3 linked regions of the Homo sapiens genome follow. The protein of the gene in region 2 purifies or fractionates together with the protein of the main gene of each other region. This does not show direct contact. Each region holds a gene or a part of one and is shown on either strand. Other genes may lie near its edges.

Evidence for each region. Proteins that work in one complex are often made in the same cells at the same time.
Region 1: the proteins of MCM9 (region 2) and PFKP purify together in Homo sapiens (affinity purification with mass spectrometry; 2 studies listed by BioGRID and IntAct, with this or other methods). This does not show direct contact.
Region 3: the proteins of MCM9 (region 2) and WRNIP1 purify together in Homo sapiens (affinity purification with mass spectrometry; 2 studies listed by BioGRID and IntAct, with this or other methods). This does not show direct contact.

The regions. Positions count from the first base shown.
Region 1 is NC_000010.11:3,105,548-3,113,175, reverse strand, and holds part of PFKP (ATP-dependent 6-phosphofructokinase, platelet type), read right to left. Parts: intron 5,963-7,628; coding exon 5,867-5,962; intron 4,476-5,866; coding exon 4,383-4,475; intron 3,822-4,382; coding exon 3,696-3,821; intron 955-3,695; coding exon 890-954; intron 58-889; coding exon 1-57. UniProt on the Homo sapiens protein: Catalyzes the phosphorylation of D-fructose 6-phosphate to fructose 1,6-bisphosphate by ATP, the first committing step of glycolysis.
Region 2 is NC_000006.12:118,910,444-118,918,700, forward strand, and holds part of MCM9 (DNA helicase MCM9), read right to left. Parts: intron 7,513-8,257; exon of another isoform or gene 7,421-7,512; intron 7,319-7,420; coding exon 7,118-7,318; coding exon of another isoform or gene 7,083-7,117; exon of another isoform or gene 6,726-7,082; intron 2,978-6,725; coding exon 2,852-2,977; intron 1,327-2,851; coding exon 1,207-1,326; coding exon of another isoform or gene 1,181-1,206; exon of another isoform or gene 154-1,180; intron 1-153. UniProt on the Homo sapiens protein: Component of the MCM8-MCM9 complex, a complex involved in the repair of double-stranded DNA breaks (DBSs) and DNA interstrand cross-links (ICLs) by homologous recombination (HR).
Region 3 is NC_000006.12:2,782,393-2,788,080, reverse strand, and holds the end of WRNIP1 (ATPase WRNIP1), read right to left. Parts: intron 4,676-5,688; coding exon 4,520-4,675; intron 3,758-4,519; coding exon 3,678-3,757; intron 3,075-3,677; coding exon 2,799-3,074; 3' UTR 1,129-2,798; downstream 1-1,128. UniProt on the Homo sapiens protein: Functions as a modulator of initiation or reinitiation events during DNA polymerase delta-mediated DNA synthesis. In the presence of ATP, stimulation of DNA polymerase delta-mediated DNA synthesis is decreased.

The DNA of each region.
Region 1 (7,628 bases), on a different chromosome or scaffold from region 2:
TCATCCGGCAGCTTGATGGCAAGTCGCTTGTAGGTGTTCAGGTTGCCCGCAAAGCTCCTAAAGGAAAAGGGTGTCGTTGGACCGGAGTCGAGAATACCGGACACAACTCAGGGCTCATGTGGAGAAAAGGTGGCTTATCTGCCAGCACTCAATGTGTCTGCCCGACTATCTGGGCAGAAGGAGGAGGCCCCAGGGTTCCATGTGCATGGCAGAGCCCTTAGCCGCGACCCGCGGTGCTGTCCGTGTCTGGTGGAAATGGACTAAGAGAAAAGGGCACGCTTCTACACTTCATAACTTTCTCTTGCAAGACATGCGTGCGGTGGCTCAAGCCTGTAATCCCAGCACTTTGGGAGGCTGAGGCGGGTGAATCATTTGAGGTCAGGAATTTGAGACCAGCCTGGCCAACATGTTGAAACCCCGTCTGTACTAAAAATACAAAAATTAGCTGGATGTGGTGACATGCACTGGTACGAGCTGGTAGTCGCAGCTACTTGGGAGGCTGAGACATGAGAATTGCTTGAACATGGGAGGCAGAGATTGCAGGGAGCTGAGATGGCACCACTGCACTTTAGCCTAGGCAACAGAAGGAGACTCCTTTTTTTGTTTTGGTTTGTTGTTAAAGGGCCACAAGTCACCTTGTGCCTTAATCTCATTAGCTCCTAAACAACCATCACCTTACCAAAAAGGACCAATGGCAAATTTAGAAAATGATTTCTCTCTAACCAGTCACCAGGGCCTGCTACTGCAAGAGCGGTGCTGTGAGTACTGCCTGACTTTCTGATTTTTCACAGTGACATGGAATAAGCACAACCCCTAAGCACGTTTGCAGTGGCTGGGCCTGAGGGGTGTGTGTTCCTGACAGGGCAGAGCTTTCTCCAAAGCACCTCACCTCCCTCGGAGTCGAACCGCATCTTGAAATCTCCTCTCGTCCATCGCCTTCTGCACATCCTGAGTCTTTTAAAACAATGATGAAAAGAAGAAAGAATGTGTCAGGACCTGGTGCATCATGGATGGGGTAGGTAGAGACTGGCTCGGTCCTTCCCACCAGCCCCCTCCAGTCTGACCCGGGCAGCCAGCAGCCCCAGGGTTAATGGTCTAGACGACCGGCCGCCAAGTGTGTCCTAATGCTGGTTGGCAGCCAGCCCCACACGGCCCGGCTGTGAGGTCAGAGCCCTGGGACTGCTTAGCTCAGGAGGCTTCTGAGGAAAAAGAGAAGGTGTCACCTGCTGTTTGTGGACACAACACTGTGAAGATTTAACTCCAAGAGAACAAAGCCAGAGGAAATGAAATCTCTCAGGCATGGTTCTAAGGAATTCTCAATTTGATTATGGTGGGGAAAAACAAAACAGAACACACCAGCTCACTGGGGGATGTGGGATGGGAGCGAGGTCACAGCGGGCGGGGGAGCAGAGGGGCCCGGATGGAGGCCCTGGGACACGGGGCTGGGACTGATGCACGCCAGGCAGCCCTGGGCAACGTCAGGATCTTGGTCAAGTTCTTTCTCGCTCTGAACTTCAATTTCCTCATCTGTAAGATGAGAAAAATACTCCTACTTCCAGCTATCTCTAAGGTTATTCAAGCATGTCAGACCCTCAGGAAGACGCCTGACAAACAGCAGGTGCACAGTAGTGGTCCCTCAGCTTTAAAAACAAAGCCACACAAGGGTGGTTTCAAGGTCAGGGCAAGTGACACCTACCACGGTCGTCTCTAGACAAGCAGAGACATGAGACACAGGCTCAAAATACACGTACCGCATGTCGTTCAGTGCTCTGAGCCTTTTAAGCCTACTGCCTCTCACATGCACACAGGCACACACTAACGTGCAGACACACACTACCTCACACTCCAACATACACACATATGCACATAAGCATACCTGCACACACAAACATGCAGACACACGCTACCTCACACTCATGCCAACATGCACACATCTGCATAGAAACATACCTGCACACACACACAAACATGCAGGCACATACTACCTCTCACAAACATACACACACATCCATATAAACACATGCACACACAGACATGCACACACTATCTCAAACATGCTCACACATGCATATAAGCATACATGCACACACATGCAGATGCATTACCTCACACACATATATACACATGCATATAAACATACATGCACACACTAACATGCAGAAACATACTACCTCACACTCAAATGTACACATGCATATACACACATGCACACACACTAACATGCACACACACTACCTCACAAAAACATGCACACACGTACAAACATGCATGCACACAAACATGCACACACATACATGCAGACATACTACCACAAACATGCATACTCATGCATATAAACATACACATACATGCAGACCCAAACTACCTCACAAACATGCACACACATGCATAAATATATGCATAAACCTGCATGTATATGCATATACAGAGATACACATGCACACACATATACATACATACACACAGAGACACAAGCCTGCGCACACACTCACACACATACACACAAATACTATTTTCTCCCTTGGGCTTTTGGAAATTATGTTTACAAGGTGACTTTCAACAAGTCCCTGACTTGATTGCTTCACGACTTCTTTGTGTGTGTTAAGAGGCAACAAAACAGGAGTCACGAATCATGAATGAACTCTGAAAAATAAAACAACAGCTGGGCGTGGTGGCTCATGCCTGTAATCCCAGCACTTTGGGAGGCCGAGGTGGATGGATCACAAGGTCAGGAGATCCAGACCATCCTGGCTAACACGGTGAAACCCCACCTCTACTAAAAATACAAAAAAAAAAAAAAAAAAAAAAAATTAGCCAGGCGTGGTGGTGGGCACCTGTAGTCCCAGCTACTCGGAAGGCTGAGGCAGGAGAATGGCGTGAACCCAGGAGGCGGAGCTTGCAGTGAGCCAAGATCACGCCACTGCACTCTAGCCTGGGCAACAGTGAGACTCCGTCTCTAAATAAATAAATTAATTAATTAAATAACTTCAAATGCAGCTAACTCCACAGCCACCTCCACTACTGAACCAATGCCTGAAAAGCTGGAACTGCTTTTCCCTTTGTTCATTTGCAGGCAGACAGTTCCCTGGCCCAAGAAGGGTGGGTGTATCTTCGGGTGACCAGAGCTTTCCCTGTGTCCCATCACAGACCTGAATGTCCTTGGGGATAGGAGGACAGGAAATGGCTGAAACTGGAGAAGTTTGGGAAGGTCCCACCTTCCCCTACAAAATACCACCCTGTAGATCTCTCTCACGCCCGCCTCCCTGCCTCCCTGCCCCCTCTGCCCCATGGGTCTCTCTCACGCCCGCCTCCCTGCAGTCTGTCCACGGATCTCTCTCTCTCGGCTGCCTCCCTGCACTCTGTCCTTCTGCAGCACCTGGTGCACTGGGGCCACCTGGATCCTCGACTGTTGAGGATCCCGATGCTCTAGACCCCCACTCAGGGGAGGTTACGACTATGTGCCACACAGATGGATGGTAACTTAGAAAACCAAAGAGCGAAGACGGCGCAGGCTCTGCAGGTGTGGGAGAGAACATAAGCCTTCTCCCTCCCCACGGGCAGCTCACCTCCTTCTCAGAAAGGCCGTGTAATGCATCGTGCACCGACGAGACACCCAAGGTGCCCAGGCTGGCCTGACAAGCAGCTTCTGTCCCAGCCGTCTCCGCCCTGCCCTTGGCCATGGGCTGCCCACTCACCATCTGCACGCACTCCATCAGCGGCAGGCGCACGGCGTGGTTCCCGTTCAGTGACACGACGCAAGCTGGGGTGTCCGGGGTGGCCTCTAGCAAGGCGATGACTGCCTCCACTCCCATGCGGCTGGCCTGGAAACCAGGTCCATGTGGGTCAGGGGCAGCCTCCCGTCCTGCCCTGTCCCTGTCACCTCCTATCTTTCCATGACGTCCAATGACCTCAGTCAGGTGCTCACAGCCCCTCCCGCTTCCAGCCCAACTCTTTAGAGCAAAGCGATTTCCACTCCTTTAGAACTGGCAAGACGGGAACAGAGAGGAGGTCAGGGCACATGGAGAGCAGGAGTGTTAAGAACTGAGGGTTTGTACTTGGGATTCCTGCTGCCCTGAGTCAGTTTCCAGAAACTCACTAGAAACACAGCCTTTCTGCCCTGGGATTGTGCCCTCTGGGGTCCACGTCGTGCCAACACCAAGCACTGCCTTCCCACATTAGGGAGCTCTCCCCGCATCTGAATGGCTGCAGGCCTAGAGACTGGTCTACACCAAAGGTCTCAAGGATCGTTAAGATGAGGGCCGGGCCGCGGGCATCTCTCGGGGAGCACCTTGCCAGCCTCTGTGGCCGGCTGGTGCCTGTGCCTCTCCAGAAACGCTTCCTCCTAGAGACCTTGTGAAGATGCCCAACCCTTCCCAACTCACCAAGATCCTGTCGAATGCCGAAGGGGTCCCTCCTCTCTGCACGTGCCCGAGGATGGTCACACGTGTGTCATAGCCCAGCTGCGTGACGACAAGCTGCAAGGAAACATCTCGTTAGGATGCGGAACTGTGATGCGGACACAGCAGCCCAGATCTGGAAGGAGGTACTGGGCACTGGAAAAGGTTTTTCGCTCTTTCTTCAGATCTAAATGGGAAAAGTTATTTCTAAATTTTGTTTCCTAGCAGAACGTTTAGTGTATATAACAGGCAGCTGAAAATTGGTTTTAAAAATAATACTGTTGTTACCAGACAAGATCTTGGCTCGCACCTAGAAAATGAATACAAGTAATATGTTCGTTGCTTTAAAAAAGAAAAATAAAAAAGTAACGTTTCAGTAGCTTGCATTTAAACTATTACTTATATTTTACAAAAAATGTAAACATCTTCCTTGAACCAGCTTTAATTTGTTCAGCTGTGATTTGAACAGCACAAGCCAGCCCAATCAAGGCGTTCCCCTCGCCCCAGCCCATGGGCACACCGGCCCGGTGATCTGGAGAGGCCACTGACTGTCTCTGGAACTCAGCTTATTCCTCTGTAAGGACAGTGGGGCTGGGCTACGTAAATTCCTTGGTTCCTTCTCGGTCCATTGTCCTATAATTTAATTACAGTTAAGCGGGAAATAAAATCTTTGCCTGGACTTTATGGATGACCACTTATAAATATTGGCAGATGTCTTTCCCAGGTGTCCATCACTGTTTTCATATCCAGAGATATGCTTTGCTCCTTAACTGACCATAACAAAGCACAATAAAGAAGCCGACTTGCAAAGCCAGGTGGGGACGTCTTCTGCCCCGTGGCTGCTGGAGCCACAGCCCATCCCCAGCCCCGGCAGCCTGCAGCCCCGTCTACAGCAGGGGCACAGCCCATGGTATCAGAGTCCTCTCCAGACAGGCAGGCACTGGCCTGAGCAAGTCCCAGGGCACGAAGCCTGCCAAAGCCTGCCAAAGCCTGTTCCCAGGCAGGGCCACGAGGACACAGTGGCTTTGTAAGAATGTGCTCAGCTGATGCTCTGGGTTATGGGAGGGCACAGGGAATAGCAAGACGCCGCCTTTTCCCACTGTGGCAAACAGAAGCCCGGGTCGGCTGCCAAGTGGTCAGTCCTCATTCTCAGAGCAGCTCATGTTTAAGAGCCGGAACATTCTAATCCAAAGAACACGCGTGGCCACTCGAGCTGACCCCCTCTGTCTGCTGGGGAGTCCCGGAACCTCTACGGGCTCGGCAAGAGGTGACGTAAGCGGAATGGGCTCCCAGGAGCGGGAGCTGCGTGTTTCCCCTGCCGTCCAACTTCTGAGTCATTATGAAAATGTTTTAAATATCAAGGATAAAAAGTTAATAATTCAATGTTCTAAACCAAGCCTGCCCATGACGCTAGCCTCCCCTGCTTCCAGGCAGAAACCGAGAGAAAGTGAGCAGCTACACACACTCACCTCTTTGATTTTCTCAGAGGTGATGGGTTTATTTTGGGTATCAATTGCTCCTTCAGCCACAATAATAATATTCAGCCTTTTTTTCCGGGCACGGTTCTGTGGAGACAGAAAATTAAAGCTCTCAAATTCCTAATCCTGTTCTTAGCAACAAATGCAACAAAACCACAGAAGTCTGTCTCAAACTGAACTGGCCTCTTTCTGGGCAGGAATCTTTGCCTAACTTCCTAAGAGCTGCTTCCCAATGACATCAGAAGGTGGTGAAAGGTGTGCTGGGTGACAGCAGGGAGGGACAGGGGTGAGAGGAGGGGCAGGGGCGAGGAGAGGGGCAGGGGTGAAGGGGCAGGGGCAGGGTGAGGAGAGGGGCAGGGGTGAAGGGGCAGTGCAGGGGAGAGGAGAGGGGCAGGGGCGAAGGGGCAGGGGCGAGGAGGGGGCAGGGGTGAAGGGGCAGGGCAGGGGCGAGGAGAGGGGCAGGGGTGAAGGGGCAGGGGCGAGGAGAGGGGCAGGGGTGAAGGGGCAGGGGCGAGGAGAGGGGCAGGGGTGAAGGGGCAGGGGCGAGGAGAGGGGCAGGGGTGAAGGGGCAGGGGCAGGGGTGAGGAGAGGGGCAGGGGTGAGGACAGGGGTAGGGGTGAGGACAGGGGCAGGGGTGAGGAGAGGGGCAGGGGTGAGGAGAGGGGCAGGGGTGAAGGGGCAGTGGCAGGGGTGAGGAGAGGGGCAGGGGTGAAGGAGCAGGGCGGCTGTGGCTCACTGGAAGAGAGCTCTTTGGGACTGGGAGCTCACATCACCACCGCAGATAGAAATGTGGCCCCCAGTCAGCCCCAGGTGGAGGGTGCTGGTGTGATTGACAGGGGTTCCCATGGGGAAGGACACACAGGTGGACGCCCCACAGGCGCCCCGTGCACGCCATGCTTTCTGCCTCCCATGGGGAAGGACACACAGGTGGACGCCCCACAGGCGCCCCGTGCACGCCATGCTTTCTGCCTCCCATGGGGAAGGACACACAGGTGGACGCCCCACAGGCGCCCCGTGCACGCCATGCTTTCTGCCTCCCATGGGGAAGGACACACAGGTGGACGCCCCACAGGCGCCCCGTGCACGCCATGCTTTCTGCCTCCCTCCAGAGTTTCCTGCCATCTCCCTGTGAACCACTCCTCCCCGGCCCTCCCAGGGGAGGCCCCGAAGCCTGGCCACTGGGATGAGGTTGTATTGCACACAGGCTCCAGCAGCAGAGAGTCGGGAGAGAGAAAACGGCGTGAGCGGACACAGGGCCCAGACAGTGGGTTTCTGGCAGCTGCAGCTGCACCCGAAAGGCCTCACACTGCTGGGCCACCGTGGCTGCTGTCCCCGTCGTCCTTCCTATGCTCACGGCAGTCACGTGAGCCTAAAGAGGTCATGAAAGGAACATAGCGACCACTCCATGATGTGGATTAACTCATCCTCAATGGACTCGCTTTCTATTAAGCCCCAAATTAAAGACCCACCCATAGAAAATGATAGGGGTGGCTGTGTGGAGCCTGGAGCCAACAGTGCCTGAAGTCTGCCTGCCGGAGTTAGGCACGCATGGGGCATTCTAACCAGGCTCACTCTGTCTCAGCCTCAGGTCTTAAATGAAACCTCTTCTGCCTTGAGTCTCAGCCTTCATAGAGGAAAACATGCCCCACGCTCACAGTCCATAGAGTGAAATACAAAGTGTGACAAACTGGAGACAGAGAAATTTTTTCACTTGCTTAAAATGCCGTCCCACTTGGGATCCTGATTAAAGCAA
Region 2 (8,257 bases):
AATATACTTTTATACTAATTCACTAATCCAGTGAATCAGCAGCAATTCACTTTCAAACTGCCCAAATACTCTGAAATTACCAGTCATCCACTTAGATGGCTTGGACTCATTTCTTGACACTCTACATAATTACTTAGGAAACATTCCACATAATTACTTGGGAAGCATCTTTATTTGTTGTTGGTATCATTTTATACAGAACTCTAGAACACTGGGTCATACGGATTTAAAACGCATGGGAAATATTCTTTATATATTCTTGCCTAGTATCCTGAAGTTTGTCTACCCTTCTCAATTCCAAAAATCCATTCTTGTCAATGGTTAATATACTGTTGAGTTATATTTCAAAACCTGAGACCTCCTTAACAGTTTTCCACTTATACAGGACCATTAATTGGCCATTTTCTGTTGTATGATAAATTTTAAAGTGTTAGTTTCTCATTAGAAATTTGAGCATTCATTAGCCCAATGGAAGTTAATCTGACTCCCTTAACAAGTAGCAAACATTTTTAAAATGTGTGAAGCCAAGGGTCTGTTTTCAGAAGAACAGAAACATTACCCAATCAAAACTGTAAAAATACAAAATAGCATCAAACATATTTTTTAAAATAATTTTTTTCTAAATTCCCTGGGTCACTTTATTTATAATCAAATCTTGACATTCTACCTGCAAAGGCTTTTAAGTGTACTTGCTAAAGAATCATTACAACTTATGAATGAAGCTCCACATTGCAATGATGGAAGTATATTTTCCAAATATTAATAAACATTCCCTACCTAAGAAATTTCAGTAGGAGCTACTGTTGCCTATCAGATTTATGAGCATGAAAATGCCTTAAGCTCTATACCATCTATCTACTTGGTAAAGTGAAATATCCCCCTCTTTAGTTTAACATTCCAGTTGCTGAGTCTTGATAAAATGCCAGATGATACGGACTTTTTCCTGCATAAAAGTATGAAGGTAATCACTAGAGAATGAGAAAATTGAATAGGATTGTTCAAAACTAAGATGCAAAGTGAAGGTGGAGCTTGCAAGATATTTTCTTAGAGCTACCAAAATAACATTGCATATTTCCTTCCATTTTTAGTGGTAACTCAAAAATTAGCTTGAAATTTATCCTATTATAGGTAGTTTTTCATTAGAAAAAACCATTGTGTTAACTTCTGAAGTAATGTTAAATTACTTGAAATTGTCACATACAATACCTGCACTAGTAGATCCAATTCCTGTGGTCAGCACAGATCTTGGTGTAATCTTTGCTGCATATTTGAGGAACTGAGATTTCCCTGTGCCAGGATCCCCAACCAATAAAAGATGAGATTCTCCTAGGAAAAAGCAAATACATGAAGTTTTAAATTTCTATAAAAGGGTCCATTTGGAATGCCAACAAAATATTACATAGTGTTTTTACTGTGTACTTTTACATAGGGTCGTTTGAGAAAGGATTTAACTAGAAAATCTTCAGAAAGTTAACTGTCATAAACAGTCCTTAATTGATTACTCAATGTGACATAGAATCTAAATTCTATTAATAAATTATGTGCTATTTCCAGATGTTCAGGCCTATGTTTAACATTTTAAAAAATATCTGGGGCCAGGTGCGGTGGCTCACACTTGTAATCCCAGCATTTGGGAGGCCAAGGCAGGAGGGTCACTTGAGCCCGGAAATGTGAGACCAGCCTGGGCAAGACTCCATGTCTACAAAAACAAACAAAAAATTTTTGGCTTATAAAGTTTCTGATTTACTCTATTTTTAAATATCAAACTACTATGATTAAATCCTTGCATACAAGTCATATAAGTATTTTATTCTATTTTTATTTAAGCACTTAGAAGTATTAGGGATTTTACAAGTACTTTACAAATATCAAATTATGATTCTAACAGTTAAGTGAAGACCTTTTCATTTATGAAAATTTTAGTAACTTAGTGAAATATGTATCTTAAAATAAGTACTCATTTTGCAAATGTAACATAAATAACGTGCATATCCTATGGTACATATGATTTCACTGACCAAGTTTCTTCAGCAATTCTCAAGTGTTTCCTAAATACATTAATAGGAAACCCCTATTTAAGCTCAACATTTGGCAGAGTGCCTTGCAAAACAGTAGGTGATCAAAACATATAAGGACGCCTTATACTTACTATTCTATACTGTACTATATGGTTTTCGAGTCCCTACTAACAGCCTGATTTATAACAATGCCCTTTTAGTCTTTTGGTTTAATTTTTGGTTATTATGGCCCACGTACAGGGCCGTAATAACCCGTATGCCAGACTCTGGTTAAGTGTGTTAGCTGCAAAAGAGCTTTCTGCCATCTGGACATAATTATACACTTAAGAGTAATCTTTTCTTGAAGGTGTGACCTGCAGCAGCACCCCATGGCAGATGGCACATTTGCTATCTACCAGCAGAAGGAGAATCAGCAGGCAGATGACTGAAAGCAGCAGTCTAAGAGAAACACAGTGACAGCCACAGATGGAGAGACGCTGACTGGAGACATTAAAATACACTATTTCTAATCTTTTTCCTTTTGAAAACAGACCGGGGATCCAACAAAAAACACAGTAATAGAAACAAAGATTTTATTTTGTGGCATCCTTATAGGCTATAGCAAAAGTATATGCCATAGAAAAATGTAACTTCTTTCAGTCTTTCTGGAACTCTAGAAAGTAGCTTCTGATATACAGATGCTAGACTAAGTATAAGATATTCAGACAACTGTCAGTTTTATAAGATTACAATTGGAAAATAAAACCCAACGAGCAGTTTTTATTTGGGAAAGAAAAAGTTCTAGCTTCCATCCATGTGTCAATATTACTCAAAATTTCTAAATAGGTACTAACCTCTGACCCGTGTTCCTGTAGCATCAGTCCTTTGAATCCCACCAGCCAGCACCATGGCCACAGCAAGCTTTACTAGATACATTCCAAACACTTGAGGGCACAAGCTAGCCAATATTACATTCCTTCCTAGGAAAAGCAGAAAGATCAGAAATCAGCAATAATTTTCAAGAAACCCCAACTGAAATTTCCCTTCCTTTCCTATCTGACCATCCTCATTTAAATATACTCTACTATGTGAAGTGATCAGGAGGTCCAATTCCAAATGACCAACAGGATTAAAGGAGGAAATAACTTTGTTTTGGTTCAAAATGTCCTGTTTTTTTGAGACAGGGTCTCACTCTGTCACCTAGGCTGGAGTGCAGTGGCGTGATCATAGCTCATTGCAGCCTCAAACTCCTGGGCTCAAGCAATCCTTCTGCCTCAGCCTCCTGAGTAGTTGGGACAGCAGGTGTGCAGCACCACGCCCAGCTAATGTTTTTTTTCTTTTTTGGAGCAACGTGGTCTCACTATGTTGCCCAGGCTGGTCTCACTCCTGGGCTCAAGCAATCCTTTCATATCAGCCTCCCAAAGTGCTGGGATTACCACCCAGCACTCATGAGTGGTATGAGCCACCGTATGTACTTTCTATGTGACAATTTCAGTAAAATTACTCCACTGCCTAAATAAAAGGAAGGTATTCAATCTCAGAAATAATGAGTCAGATCATACAAGTCAGTAATCTTTAAATACAGAGGTAGCTGGAGCTCATGAAGCTGCTCCAAAGGTATAAGAAATAAGTAAAAAATCCACCCTCCAAGTCAATTCAGCATTTGCTCTGAGCAGTCTGGTAAATTCTGTTTTCTCTGGAACAAAGTTACAGGGGCATCAAGGCATTAAGAAGATCACTGCACACCACAACCCTAGCAGTGTAAGTATGAGATCTCGAATTCTTCTGATCATGTGCTTTAAATAAAAGAACATCACTGTTTGGGGTTCTGTTTTCAGAAATAACGCACCAAATCTGAGAATCTGCCTATCTCTTCCATGAATAAAGCAGGTATTTCATTCAGTCATTGGCCTAACCAACCTATGGAATTCCAACAAGCCATTCCTGAGCCTTTCCACGACTTATGGCCCTATACACAAAGGCTACTTTTTGTAATGAATCAACATTGATTCAGTGGCAACTAATCTATGATGATGTGGCCTGCGATGGCAGAAATGGTGAAGAAAGAAAATCTTTTAGTAAAAAAGGAACCAGAAGATTTAGTAAATCCAGGAAGTTCATTACTTGCTGAAGGAATCCCTCCCTGTTTGGAGTTAGAAAGCCTGGAGAAAAGGTCAGGAATCCAAGCAGATAAGACTTGACAGCAGGTAGGTAAATTGTGACCAGAATCTAGTGATTACATGTGGAAGGAAAGAAGAAACAGCCCCAACAAACAGGTTCAAGAGTAGGCAAATTGATCTGGGAATTACATAAGCCAAAACTTAGAGCCAATTTTACTGAGTAACATGCTGATGGGAAGCATATCCCTGTGGTAAGAGGACAGGCTCTGGTGTCATGTTTGGATTCAAATCCCAGTGCTATTAATTACCAACTGTCTGACCTTAGGCAAGTTTCTTAACCTCTGCCTCCATTTCTTGTCTGCAAAATGGAGATTATAATGGTATCAAGACAGAATTGTTGAGAATCAAGGGAGTTAGTAAGTATACAACACATTAAATAATAACTGGCATATAGTGGGAACTACTTAACTGTAACTGTTAGCTATTTTATTACCTGTATTATTTGTGCATCTTTCTGATCTAAAGATTTCCTCACACTGTGGTCAACACAAAAGACTACAAAGGTAGGACTGGGGTCCCAGAGAGAAGCAAAAAGGAAGGGCCAAATGTGTTGTCTAAGTTGAAAAGCTTGATTCCTTAGATCATGGCAGCAGAAGATCTCATGGCTATATCATGGAAGAAAATGCATTAGCACCAGTACTACCCCCATCCTCACCTCCCTCCCAAATTTCTAGTTCTAGACCATGTCAATAGTGTGGCAAAGGCCTAGTTATCTACTCTTGTGTGGCCCTCAGTTATCTCAATGAAGAGAACTTAGTAGGCCCTTAGTAATCTCAGAATTAAGATAAGTCAGTGACCCCCAAAGAGGGTTCAGATGGCCCAAAACACTCCAACCCTTACATCTGGGTTTCTAACATCTAAGCACCAGGGTCAAGGAATCCCTCAGGTGACAGCAGATCAGAATAAGGCCCCTAGGTTCATCCTAGCCAGTACCCACAGGATCAGGTCTTAAGCAAGTCAACCTCCAAGTGCTGATCAGTGAAGCATTCTCCAGCTTTAGACCAGCAAAATGAAGATGTTCTGTTGGATACAGCTTCCCAACTTCACCTCTCCTCCCTCCAACACACTCACCAACACTCTGAAATGGAGGAATACCAGTACACTGGTGCTGGTCCATAGGAAACTGAGAATCCATTCATACTAACAAGAGAAACACTGCCTTATTTTCTTGCTATCTTCCTACTTATATTTCTCACAAGACTATTATATTTACTTCTGCCTTTTATCCAATAAATGGCTCATGCAACAGTAGCCTAATTAAAACAAGACAGATTCTTTAATTGCCAGCACAAAGCACGTCTGAAGATCTAGTTAGAGTACCATATGATGGCCTTCCCTTCATTGTTAAGAGGTAGAACTGAGCTGTGACACTGTAATAAATAAATAAATAACAGTGGTCCAAGGAAGAGTTACAAATTTTTATAAGGATAGAATCCTAAGAAACCATTTTCAGGCTGTTCAGGCTGGGCACAGTGTAATCTCAGCACTTTGGGAGACGGAAGTGTGAGGATCGCTTGAGCCTAGGAGTTCAAGACCAGCCTGGGAAACATAGCATAGTGAGAACCCTGTCTACTTTAAAAAAAAAAAAAGAAACCATTTTAATTTTAAAAATCATTTAAAAATGTATGATTCTTAAAGTGCCTGCTTCATAAATCTATAATGTAGAGAACTTTTGCTTCTTTCAATACAGATCAGAAAAAAGAAAGATCAGGAACTACTAATGTGCTATACATTTACACACACACACAAAAAAAAAAGAAAAAAGAAAAAATCCCATAAAATAAAACTATCCCTATTTAGGGAAATGGAAGCATTATTATTATTATTATTATTATTATTATTATTATTATTATTATGAGACAGAGTCTCACTCTGTCGCCCAGGCTGGTCTGCAGTGGCGCGATCTTGGCTCATTGCAACCTCTGCCTCCCGGGCTCAAGTGATTCTCCTGTCTCACCCTCACAAGTTGCTGGGACTACAGGTGCACGCCACCACACCTGGCTAATTTTTGTATTTTTAATAGAGACAACGCCACCACACCTGGCTAATTTTTGTATTTTTAATAGAGACAGGGTTTCACCATGTTGGCCAGGCTGGTTTCAAACTCCTGACCTCAAGTGACCCACCCACCTTGGCCTCTCCAAGTGCTGGGATTACAGGCGTGAGCCACCATGCCCAGCTAGAAGCCTTATTTTTTAAAATAATATCTATCTAATTTAGCATGTGATTTAAGAATAAAGTAATCAATATCTCTTAGATTTGAGGGGAGTGTTATTAGAAACGTCTATTACTGGCTTCAGTTTATTTTTCTCAAAAGATGTCTCCATGGAGAAATGAAAACAGGCACTTGAAGATTTAATTGGTGCTTTACACACTTGAGATTTTTTAATAAAATACACTACAAACCCAATGGCTGTGATGTTTTATTCTATGTAATTACACCTGAATGTCACAGTCAAAATTTTTGCTTGTGATGACAAAGCTTATCGTCTGCATCTTCTCTCATCTTTTTCCTAGTTATTCCCTGTTTTAAAATCTTCAGCCAAAATAGTGTAGAGTTAGATCTTTATTATTGAAAATACATCAAAGAAAAACAATGGCTTTAATAGGATGAGGGTTCATAAAAGGATGAGTTTTGCCTTTTTAAAGAACTATATTTTTAATTGATATGATAGGAAACTCTGAAATTGTTTTGGCAGTGTATAAGGTGTTTAAAATAATAGTTAGAAATGAAATATCTCCAGGCAGGTTGCTAAATAGAAGAGTATGGCAGAAAAAGGCTTCAAAGGGAGACTATAGCTAGAGGTAATGACTAATCCTACCCTTTAAACTCAGTCATTGAGTTATGCGGCATATAAGACTGTCAAATCACAGACATCATATTTAACCACTGAATGTAATACCATTAATAATAATCAGTTTTAGCCCTTAAACACAAACCTGCAAAGGGATCGCTCTTATAGTATTCCCAAAAATCTTCGAATTCCTTTTGGACCTCCTCATCCATGATGATCCCTGAGGACTGCTCATTATTTACTTGGATGTAATTTGCTTTCAGGACTATCTCCACTTCACAGCGCACATCTTGCTGAAAGGGCTTCCACCGTTGCATTACAATCCCGTAAATAGTGAGGTCATCACCTAGGAAAAAGCATCAAGTGAGTCCAGCAGTAGCATCCTGCATGCTGAGCACAGACTCAAAATGACAAAGGACCAGAAATTAGAAATAAACCACTCCCTTACTAGAGTTTACAATATGTACACTCATCCAGAAAACAATTCAGGGGCAGAATAGCACCCCAGATTCTTGACTGTTGTCCCCCACAGTCATGTATCTGTAAAGTGAAAAGCTGAAGTCAGTATTTCCTATTTTTCATAACCTGCTACATGATAATCCTACAAAATTATTACTTTTCACTGGGAAAATAGTTTACTGGATGATTCATTCATCACAGTTACATTGGATGAAATGTTCATCCTCTGAGTCTCTAACCATTTAGCTCTCATTTAGAGAAGAGATGTGGGAACTGCAGCCAGAAGGTTAAACTATAATTTGGAGTCAGGAAAAGAGATAACCTTGTGATGACTGGCAGGTAGTTTGGGTTTCTTACATGTTCATTTTTACTTAACTCATTTGCTAATATTTTACTCACTGCCCCCCCACATCTTTTTTAGTGAACCAAAGAAACAATGAACTAAGAAATGAATAAATGCCTGTTATGCTTCAAAGTTCCTTCCCACAAAATATAAAAGCACAAGATACAATCCTGCTTGTTCCTTGCTGATGGTTCTCTCCTACCTGAGGAAACCCTCCCACCATTCCTGGTAGGCAGAAGCAACTTTTATAGATTTTCCTAAGAGGCCCTGGGTAGTTTATAGGCACACTCGCCAAACACTGCCATCTGTACTTGTTACGACATACAATGCAATGCATCAGTTAACAAGTATATACAAATGTTTGGCCTTCCATATTTTGGTACTGGAGAAAGTGGGCCAAAAACAAACATGAAAAAAATCATAATCCTGGTCCCCCCAAATTTTAATCTTGTTGAACACAGGGTGTTGGATGTGCCCCAACCC
Region 3 (5,688 bases), about 120 Mb from region 2:
CCTGGCAAGTCGAGTGGGGAATGCCAAGGCATCAACGTGGCAGACGTCTCAGAGGCTTGGGAGGTGGCAGCAGGTAAGGAAGAGGAAGATGGGTCTCCAGACACCCTCTCCTACTCCAGGCCAGGGGAAGATCTCTGAACCAGAGGGGCCCAGATAGAGCCAGGGGCTTGGGTACCATTTCAGTCAGAAGATCAAAGTGGTAGGCACATACTGAGTGATGTATGACGACTTTCCTCTTTCCCCACCTGGCGCTGAGAACGCAGGGAGCCATGCCTTGACCTACTTGACTGAAAAGATGAGCCTGACCCTACCTACCGTCTAGTCCCAACACTGCGGCAAGGGATCCCTATAACATCAAAGTCTCATCATGACACTCTTTGAGGGAAACCTTGAGTAAAAGCCAAAGTCCTTCCCATGACCTAAAAGGTCCCACCTTATCTGAAGCTCCATGATCCTCGGCCTCGACTTCTACCACTCTTTCCTCCCCTCCGGCTAGACTGGTCTCCTTACTGGATGCTGAACCCACCCAGCCTTCCATCCTCCCTCGGCGCCTTTGCACTTGCTTTTCCCTCTGCCTGGGATGATCCTTTCCCGGGTGTCTGAAAGGCACATTCACTTCCTTGAAGTCTTGACTCAAACACTTTCTTGGTGAGATCCACCTTGGCTACTCTACTAAAACTGCACCCATACCTCCCCTTTCCATATTCAATCTTTCATTCATTTTCTCCTTAGCATAGCACTTATCACTATTTGGCATATTAACATATTATTTTTCATACCATAGGCTTTAAGAACACAGAATTTTTGGTCTCTTCTGCTCACTGATGTGTTTTAACATCAACAAGAATGCTCAGCATAAAACAGGCACTCAATATTTATTGAGGCCGGGCGCGGTGGCTCACGCCTGTCATCCCAGCACTTTGGGAGGCTGAGGTGGGTGGATCACCCGAGGTCAGGAGTTCGAGACCAGCCTGACCAACATGGTGAAACCCCCGTCTCTACTAAAAATACAAAAATTAGCCTTGTGTGGTGGTGTGCGCCTGTAATCCCAACTACTTGGGAGGCTGAGGCAGGAGAATCGCTTGAACCTGGGAGGTGGAGGTTGCAGTGAGCCGAGATCGCATCATTGCCCTCCAGCCTGGGAAAAAGAGCAAGAGTTGGTCTCATAAATAAATAAATTTATTGAATAAAAAAAGAAACTTCCCTAGAACTGAAAGGAGTTTCCAGATTGAAAGGCCCAACAAGTACCCAGTGCAGACTTTTAAAACACGGGGAGCAAAGACAGAAGAGTCTACAAGTTGATAGAGGTTACAAACAAAAGACCACACACATCAGGATGCCTTCAAACTTGACAACAATGTGGGAAAGTGTAAAACAATGCACAAGTAATTTCTTACCTACAATTTATTACTAGCCAAACCCTCAGACACGTCTGAAGGTACAATAAAAGCATTTTGAGTCTCCTGAGGTCTAAAAATACTTTTCCTCCACACACCCCTGCTCCATAAAGCTACTAGAGGGTACATGCCACCTGTGCCAGAAAGCAGTCAGTCCTGTCATCAGATGGGGTGCAGGGAGAAGCAGAGGAAAGCTCCAGGGTGATGATGAAGGGAGATTCTGGGGATGGCAACTGCACACTGCAGTGCAACCACTCCAGACAGAAGGAGGGAGGCCAGTCGGGCCAAGCCTCTGCAACATACAGTCCCTCCAGCCTGATAAAACTACTAGAGGATGGGTTGCACTGAAATAGCGGAATAAACCAGTAAGGCGGGATGGAGCATCCAGAAAATGGGCATCTCACTCAGAATAAAGGCAGAGGACGTCCCAGGCCAACAGCCGGCAGCCTTCCAGACATGGCAGGAGGACCCCAGGAGGGATCACGCAACAGCAGGAGGAGAACCGACTACCTGAAGGGGCCATCCTTGTGGGCATATGCACGACATGCAACTAAGGAGAGGGAGAGGAAGTAGCAGTAGGGACAAATAACTCTTAACTGAGCAGAAGGAGTGGCGTATTTTGTGTTCAGGACACACATAAAGTAAAAGAAAAACGACTGTTTAGAAATATGGAGCTGCAAGAAGAAACCAGGACAAGTGGGAAAAAATGGGCATGGGACTACTGGAGTCTTCCACAAGCCATTTAAAGAATTCCTTTATGTATTCCTTTAAAGAGATCAGAGTTAACTTTCAACAAGATAACACTGACTTCTTAACTTAAGCTCCCCACTCTTCCCATCTGGGGTGATTTCTCCTTCCCAGTATCCACCCACCAAATGCAATGGTGACAACGCTGGTACCTAGCATCCAGGCAGGAAAACCATGACAGAATCGAAGAGTACTTTGAAATAGTTTTATTGGCTCGTAAGACCTTTGCATATAAAAAAAATACCCAAAACACTATGCAGTATTAAATCACAATTACATTTTTTTACCAATTAAAACTACCCAGAATATACATTTTTTAAAGAAAAGAAAATCCTACAGAACTGAATTCTGAAATGACATTATGACTTAAATACTATGACAAAATAGATAATTCCTTATAACATTAATTCATTGCACAAAGCTGCCAGGTATTTTCATAAGCATAACCGCTGCACCGAGTGCAAATGAACACAATTTCAAAGTTACACATTTATTCGAAAGAACTGCGCCTCCACCTATGGAACTCTTAAATTTCTGGCACAAAATGTTGGTCTGTTCTAACTTCCACCAGGCAACCAACTTTGCAATCCACTAACTTTCTTTCTGGCCCTCCCTTAAAAAAGCAACATCCTTCTGCTGTCGTGCCCTGAGGAGTCAGCACCTCCTCTGCTTGAAGAAATCTACCCCCCTCAACTCTTCAGGCAGGTACTCCTGATCCACAGGCTCGCTGTACATGGGGTTGTACTTGTAGCCTTTGCCATAGCCCAAATCCTTCATCAGCCTAGTGGGCGCGTTCCTCAGGTGCAGGGGCACGGGGGGCAGTGGCCCCTGGTGGTTCCTCAGGCAGGCTTTGACGTTGTTGTAGGCGCTGTACACCTCAATGGACTTTGGGGCTCTGGCAAAGTAGACCACACACTGGGCCAGAAGCACCTACCAATGACACAGAGGACACATTTTACTAGCAAGATGCCAAGCTTCTGTTCTGCAGAGCCCCTTCTGATACACAGCTCTAGGTAATTCTGAGAAGATCCCCACATGCTTTTATTATCCCCCTTTTGCGCCTACAGTCTGGATAACCACCTACGACAGACAGAAGAAATTCTCATGAGGTGAAACGAGAGGCAAACCAGGTGAGTGGTTTTCATTTTTTTTTTTAACTGAAGGACTTTTTACTACATTAAATTTTTCTTAAGCCCCCAATATATAAAAGAGATGAATATGAAGCTGCTCTGGGGGCGAACTTGCAGAGGCTTTGCTGTTCAGCTCCTTTAACCTTTCTGCTCCCTGGAACATATGGAGCATGTGCTCTGAACCCCGGAATCCCGAGAACAGTTTGAAACATGACCTCGTTGACACAGAAGGTTTCCCTCTCTAGGAGTCTAAGAGTCTACAATTGGAATTCCAAAGCCAAGCAGCATACTCAGTGGGTCCAATACACCAATGGTGAAGGAGGGACATTTATTCAAATCTACAAAGGGACAGAGCACGAGAGAGAAAAGAAGTGATTTGCAAGAAATGAGCTGATTACTTTACCTCACATTCAGGCATGCCTATAAAATGACAGCCTTGGTAGGCAGCAACCGCTTGTGTTAACGCAGACGGGTCTGCCAGACCTGCCACACACAGAGACAAAGGAGAGTTTCAGTCATGACACACACTGTCCTCCTGGCCTATGTGCAGGCGACCACAGACCACCACTGCTTGTACACTTGGTGACCAAAACAATCCCATGTAGCAAAACAGCCTGACTTAGCTCTAGTCTCTGATCCCATGAACTTATGCAAGAAATATTGAGAGTGGTTACTGTGTGGTGTTAAGAACTGTTTCCTTGTGGATAAAAACTCTGCATCTAGAAAAACATGAGTCTCTGTATAACAAACATAAGAAGTGAAGGCTATGGAGACATTCACCAGGATGGAAACACTAAAAACAAAACATCCCCTAAGACCAAAGAAGAGGAGAGCTTTCCTGATCTTTTTCTTCATATAGTGTCTAGAGTCTTCCATTTCTACCTTGGGAGCTGTCCAAAGAAAACCTTGAACACCTGACTTAAAGCAAATTTAAAAGCAGCTCATCTATTGCAATACTCTGAATAGCCACTCATGTTAGTAAAAACATTCCCGAAGAGGAAACAGAAAATGGTGACTTTATGAACATAAACATTCAAAAGCACATACACCAGGAAATAAACGACTGAGCTCAGGCATAAAGTCTTATCTTCTCCTGCCAGTCTCACATAGCCCTGAGACATTCTTCCTGCTACCCCCGCCCACCCCGCCCTGCAAAAAAAAAAAAAAAAAAAGCCACGATGTAACTGTTAGCCATTTCCCCACCCTCATGGACATAGGACTCCGGGACCCTCCCATCACACTCACCTATGTCCTCGCTGGCAAACCTGACAAGCCTCCGTGCCACGTAGAGTGGGTCCTCTCCTCCCTCGAGCATGCGAGCCAGCCAGTAGAGGGAGGCGTTCTGGTCTGAGCCCCGCATGGACTTGTGCAGGGCGGAGATGCAGTTGTAATGCTCCTCACCTGACATCACAAAGAGCACCACTCACACAGAGCTCACAGGAGGGGCGCCCAAGCCATCTTCACCTCCGCCAGCTGACTTCCAGAAAGCCTGAACGAATAAAGGCCCTGAGAAAGCCGAGGAGAGGTTTGGGCAGCTGCCTTAACCGTGCTCTGAGTGGGGTGCACCAGCTGCTGGGGCTTAATCCCAGTCCTATTCAGGGGAAGAGGCTGCTGCAGCAGAAACCTGTGGCTGTCGACATGGAGTGCACGCACACGCACAGAGGCAGGAGGGAGGAAAGGTGGTCCTCCCAGCTGGTGGATTTGCCAGAGACAAGAGTGGAGGGGGACGAGTCTTCTGTTCTGGCTCTATCCCGTGGCCCACCATCTACTGGAGGAAAAGCAACGGTGGGCCTGCTCGGAGCCAGGAGGATGTAGAGCCAAGTGGCAAGGGCAGCTGTTATAGCCCATCTGTTCCTCAGTGTCATTTCCAGCTGCCTTTCTGATATCCGAAGCCTGTGGTCATTTAAACCTCCTTCTGCCAGCCTTGGTGTGGGGACACCTGTGTGGCAGGGTCCCAGAAGGACCGACACGTGGACTAACCAGCTTCCGCCCTGAAGTGGACGGAAGCCCACTCTCTCACCGCCTGGTCTTACTACTCCATTTTTACCCTAGATTCACATGAAATCAGTGAAATGTGCTTTAAAAAAAGGCATATTTAAGGGCAAAAAAATGACAGCTAAACAGTTCTCAGGAACTAAGCAGTGGCACCTGCATACATTTCACTATTCTCTGGCCATCGTCCCTTAGGTAAGTTCAAGGAGGGGGCACCCTCCTCACGAGAAAGCGGAGGATGGTGTTCCCGTGAGTCTCACTCCTCCCAGAGGAGCACCTGGTCTGTGCTCAGCATAAGCCCATGTCCACAATACGACTGGCGCCAGCCACAAACCCTGGCAGCTGAGCTCGCTGGTAAGATGACAGTTGGTCTTCAGGTGGAGAAGAGAGCAAGCGAAGATGCTGGCCTCCCACAGGGGAAA